Linked DNA regions of Homo sapiens: region 2 is linked to region 1. Evidence: fine-mapped expression QTL. A gene starts in region 1. The other region holds a variant in brackets. All regions are shown on one strand. Distances are from middle to middle.

Region 1 (2,913 bases):
TTGTTGAGTATTTGCCTTAAGATGCAGGTGGTGGGTGAGGATGTGCCCCATTTTGCAGCTGGGCAGTCTGTCTATGGAGGCTGGGGTCACATCAACCCCAATCCTAACAGCTTTCTCCCCTGCTTTGGGCCCTTCAATGTGTCCACTTTCCTGAGACGCCTTAAGGGAATTTATGCAGATCTATAAAAGTGACGATGGTCCCCCCTCACAGCCACCTTTTCCCACCAATGCTTTGTCATGTACCTTCACGGCAGGATCTGAAACTTGTCCTAGTGTCCACAGCCGGTCTTGACCTTAACAGAACCTATGTACCCTTGTGTGAAGCAGAGGCCGCAGCCTTAGGACTCTGAGCCTTGGCCTTTGCTGTGTGCCGCCCTCCACCCCTTTCTCAGACTTGGGAGGAGTGAGGAGAGGAGCCACCTGGGGCAGTTCAGGAATGGGGAGCTTCAGGACAGTTTGCACCACACACTCTGGGACTTAGCTGTGCAACACCCCGACCCCCATGTGAGGAAGGTGGTGTTTGTTTGCTCCACCAGACTGTCAGCTCCTCCCTAGGAGCACGGAGTGTGTCTTGCTCACATTCGTATCCCCAGTGTCAGCACTTAAAATGGATTCAACGGATAAATGTTGAATGAAATTCAGAAATGATGTGCAATAGTAAAAGCTAACATTTAGGAATCAACTTATTACTTACAGACACCTTTGCATATTGAGTGAAATTAAGTTGTTTGATTTAACAAATCTGTGGCTTTGGGGTAGAGAACAAGAACATAGCAAGAGGAAGCATTCTTTATTAGTCCTTCACGAAAGAGGATGGACAGACACATCTACGGAGAGGGGCTCCAGAGGCAGGGACCCAGAGATACACCCGGCCAGGCAGAACAGCTCCAGGATGTGGCCCCGATCCTGGAAAAGTGCGTTTAAAAGAGGCTTAAGGCATATCAGACAGCCTGGCCAACATGGTAAAACCTTCATCTCTACTAAAAATACAAAAAAATTAGCCAGGCATGGTGGCACAGACCTGTAGTCCCAGCTACTTGGGAGGCTGGGGCAGGAGAATCACTTGAGCCCAGAAGGCGGAGGTTGCAGTGAGGCGACACCGTGCCACTGCACTCAAGCCTGGGAGACAGAGTGAAGGAAAAAAAAAAACAGGCATTATTAGAGAGGCTTTATCTCCTACGTGTTCAAAAGCAACCATGCTCCTCCCAGTATCTCAGGACGACTGGACTGCCTGTGTTCCTGTTGCTCTTCACAGAAGCTCCATGAAAGCGGGCTTCGCTTTTGTTCATGCAGCCAGAGGCTCAACACATGACCTCGAAGCCGCCAAGGCTTTATCAAACGGATTTCTCCCAAAAACTTCGTTTCCTTCCGCGACGCCCTGCAAGAACCCTGTATTCCTGAGTCCCTGGCTCAGCGTCTGCTACCCCGATGCTGTCAATCAGATCCTGCTAATCTGAGCGGCCGTGGCTCCGTCCCGGCTCCGCGTCCGCTGACAGGTCACCGCTGTGAGTCTCCGGATTACCAGTCCAAACGGGACGGCTTGAGGTCCCCGCGCCCTAGGGACCTGCGGGGCCCGAGCGCAGGGCGCGCCAGAGAACTACATTTCCCACAGAGCTCTTGGGAAGCCGGGGCCGCCGAGACCCACGGCCCGGCGGGCGGGCTCGCGGGGAGACTCCTGGGAGTTGTAGTCCATTCCGCCGGCGCCGGCGCTGGCGCTGCTGCGGGCTCGGCGCCGGCCTTTGTCTGCGGGCACGCGCCGCTGCGGTGAGTGAGGCCGCTGGCCGGGTCAGAGCGCCGGGGCAAGGCGGGGCTGCGCCATCAGACCGCTGTCCCGGGCCCTCCGTGTGGCCGCCTTATGCCAGCGGCCGCCAAGGAAATGAGCAGGCCTGGCCGGCCCGGGCCCCGAGGGAGGCCAGCCGCGAGCGGAGAGGTCGGCGGTCCGCAGAGCAGGGTCCCGTGGACCGGAGAGCGGGATGCCGAGGTTCAGGACGCAGGGCGGGCCCGGTGCCCGGGGCCCGGGGCCTGAGGCGGGAGGGCAGCGTCTGCGGAGAGGAGCAGGGCCCATGGCGTCGGGGCGTGGGAGGGGGAGGCCGCGGCAGGCTCACCCGGCCTCCGTGCGGGCTTCAGCGAGTGCGGGAAGCCGGTGCCGGCCTTCCGGGGTGGGAGGAGAGGCAGCCCCTGCGGGGGAGAGTAGGAAGCCAGGCAGCGTGTGGGAAACCACGCTACCCACAAGCTCCTAAACCTGAAACTGGCCCCAGGACATTTTCCAGACCGCCAAGTGTACCCCTCTTCTCATCCGCCCTCCAGAGGACGCCGGATTTTAGATCTTAAGTCTGGTGGTCTCGTCTGATACTCCTCTTGTTTGGTTCTTTCCTTCTCATTGTCCTACCTGATAGGACAGTGTTAGTAACCTGTTTAATAAGTGGGGAAGCAGAGTCAGGGCTGCTGGGTTACTCGCCCAAGATCATATCCTGGGGGAGCCACGGCAAGAAGCCAAGACTCACGGACTACTTCTAAGCTTTTTCCAAAGGATATAGTAGCCTTTCTAATAGGAAAATCAATGTTTTTAATTATAAAGCCACTTTTACAAAATCTTGGGGAAACTGCTTCCTCAGACCTGTGATCTAGGGAGAAAAATATGACAATTTCTCCCTTACTAATCACGGAGGTCCCTGATAGGCGGCGGAGTTGTAACTTGAAGACCTCACAGCAGGTGGAGAGGCAGAGCTGTGAATTCTACTCTAATTTCTGGAATCCCCGGCGACAGAGTCCAACCCCAGGCAGCAGGCGCCATGTACCCCAGGGACTTTTAATGTGTGTGCAGCTGTTGAGCAAGAATACCTTGAACTTCCAAATGATGTGCTGGCATGCTGGTAGGGAATTCCTTTGCAGCTTGTGTTCCAAGTTGGAAGT
Region 2 (2,913 bases), 130 kb after region 1:
CCTTTCTCCAGTATGAGTTCTCTGATGATAAGTGAAGTCTGGCTTTTGTGAGAATGTTTTCCCACATTCGTTACATTAATAGGGTCTTACACCTATGTGTATCCTTTGATGTACTATGAGGAATGAATTGTAAACAAAGGTTTTTCCACATTCTTTACCCTCATGGGATTTCTCCCCTGTGTGAGTTCTCTGATGTACTTGGAGATATGACTTCTCACAGAATTTTTTCCCACATTCACTACACTCATTGGGTTTATCACCTGTGTGTGTTCTCTGATGTACTGATGTACTGTAAGGACTGACTTATATCTAAAGGCTTCCCTTCAGATATAAGTCACATAACCTAATGACACTTTGCATTTGTATGTATCGAATGTGCATGACACATTCAATACATTCTTAGGGTTTTTGCCCTGTGTGTATCTGCCAATGAACTGTAAGGCCTGACCTATTTGTGAAGGTTTTCTCACATTCAGTACATTCATAAAGTTTCTCCCCTGTGTATATCCTATTATGTACTATGATAGATGAACTGTGGCTGAGAGCTTTCCCACACTCATTACATTCATAGAACTTTCCTCCTACGTGTGTTTGCTGATGTTTAGGGAGAACTGACATATGCCAAAAAGAACTCCCATAATGACTATTTTGAAAGGTTTTCTTTTCTGCGTATGTATGCTGTTGAGAGAGACTTGGTTTCTTAAAGATTTCCCTACCTTCATTACATTCAAAGCTTGTTTTTCCTTTTTGAGTTCTTTCAGTGTCAATAAAGAGTGACTTTTGCCAAAATTATTCTCACACTCATAGTATTTTTTCCCCATGATTCCTCCATGGTGTTTATTTAGAGATTTCTCACCAACAGACCTCCTCCCACAGCAATTAAACTCGTAGTGATTTTCCCTTCTGTGAGTACTCTGATGAACAAGGAGGTTTGGATTGTCAGAAAAGGCTCTTAGTTGTTCATTATATTCACAAGGTTTCTCCCAGAAGCACACTCTCTTATGGGTACTGAAGGCTGCCTCCTCATGAAAAGCTTTCCCACACTCAAGGTATTCAAAAATTTGCTTCAGAGTTTGAATATCCTGATGCTGAAATAAGTCCTCATTCTAACAGATGGCTTTCTCATTTCTGTCACACTCAAAATGTTTCTCTCTGGCATAAGGATGCTCATGTCATATGAAGGAGCAATTTCGCATGTGCACTGAGCTCATCAAGCTTCCTTCCAAAGGAGTTTCTATTACTAACAATTAATTCTGAAATATAATTCACGTTCATTATACATAAGTCATATTTATCAGGTATTTTTCTCATTGGAACAAGGTTTGAATTTATATTAAATGTTTCTCCTAAAACACTATTTCTGTCTTCCATCAGTATTTTGTTGTTGACAAAACCAGCTTTCCTCAAATGCTGGTCTTGGTTTTCCTGGTTCTTCTCCATCAGGTCAACTTTCCAGAATTCTAGAAATGAGAATAGTTTACCATATCTTATAAATATTAACACATTTCATGTGGAAAGGGGATGTAACATGCAAATGCTCTAGGATAGCCCAGGCATCTGGTCTGAAAGTAATCCTGAAGGCATACATCTCACTCCCTTAGGATTAGACAAAACAAACTGAATATGAAAAAAGGAGAGGAATCTGCAAATAAAAACACAGTAATCTGGCACTTTAGAAATGTGACCTTCAAAACTGGATAAAGTGGAATAAACAAATACA[G/A]CAAATGGTATTTTAGGATGAATGGTAGAGGCATGAAGGGGAATCATCGAAAGCATTGAATAGTAGGTAAAATTGCCAGAAAAAAAATCAGGTGATAGTGTTTGAGGGGTGACGGCAAAGAAAAAATTAAGTTTGGAGGAGGCAAATGTAGGTTTTTATCTCCTGCTGTAAAATACTCACTAATACATATGTTTCCAATGCATCACTAATTCTTTTCTTTGTTTTTATTTTTTTTATTTTTTGTTTTTTGAGACAGAATCTAGCTCTTTGCCCAGGCTGGATTGCAATGGCACAATCTTGGCTCATTGCAACCTCCACCTCCCAGGTTCAAGTGATTCTCCTGCCTCATCCTCTCAAGTAGCTGGGATTACAGGCACCCGCCACCGTGCCTGGCTGATTTTTGTATTTTTAGTAGAGACAGGGTTTCGCCATCTTTGCCAGGCTGGTCTCGAACTCCTGACCTCAGGTAAACCTACCACCTCAGCCTCTCAAAGTGCAGAGATTACAGGCATGAGCCACCGCACCCTAAGGTCCTAGCAGGTGTTGCTCTATCTCTGATTTCTTTTAAATTATCTGAATGAGTAGTAAATCAGTGGACACATACTAGCAAGTGGTATTTGTATTTTTAGTAGAGATGGGATTTCACCATATTGGCCAGGCTGGTCTCAAACTCCTGATTTCAAGTGATCTGCCCACTTCAGCCTTCCAAAGTGCTGGGATTACAGGCATGAGCCACTTTGCCTGGCTCTTCTTTTCTCTTCCACTCATCAACACCAAATTACAATTTCAGACAGCAATAATTTTCCATGTGCAAAAGAAAACTCCTATTGCCCAGACAGTAATTCTTACTCTAGCTGATTCACACCAAAAGCCAATGTCCAGAGAAAGCATACATGTAGGCTATGGAAACAAGATCAGGTATGTAGTTTTATTCTGCTGTTGTATCTTCATTTTCTTTTACCACAGTTGTCATTAATGAACCTGTCATAGCCATCAAATCATAAAATTTCCCTATTTATCAATTTATTTCATAAACAGTCTTGTACCTCACACAACTCTTTTTGTATATATAAAGTCATCCTTTACTTTTCATATACATATAATATATAATATATACGTGTGTATATATTACATATATGAATATACATATATAATTTTTTAACCATTTATTTATTTCAGCATGTCTGGTTTCT

What was found. PIP is the estimated chance that this variant, and not a neighbour inherited with it, causes the effect. A credible set is the group of variants that fine-mapping cannot tell apart.
Region 2: its variant is the best candidate, but not a certain one, in a credible set for the expression of ZNF32 in whole blood (INTERVAL, PIP 0.69).

What each region holds. Positions count from the first base shown.
Region 1 is chr10:43,647,653-43,650,565 of GRCh38, reverse strand. It overlaps ZNF32 (zinc finger protein 32), which reads left to right and starts at 1,685. Exons shown (of 3, transcript NM_006973.3): 1 at 1,685-1,764. All of the region lies in intron 1 of ZNF32-AS3 (ZNF32 antisense RNA 3), which reads right to left. It overlaps ZNF32-AS2 (ZNF32 antisense RNA 2), which reads right to left. Exons shown (of 3, transcript NR_047558.1): 3 at 2,547-2,913. RefSeq lists a silencer at 1,660-2,179.
Region 2 is chr10:43,521,789-43,524,701 of GRCh38, reverse strand. It overlaps a transcript of ZNF487 not described here and the pseudogene LOC100130881. Among named protein-coding and RNA genes, the nearest start is that of ZNF239, 51 kb to the left of the region's middle. The variant G/A (reference allele first, on the strand shown) is at 1,721.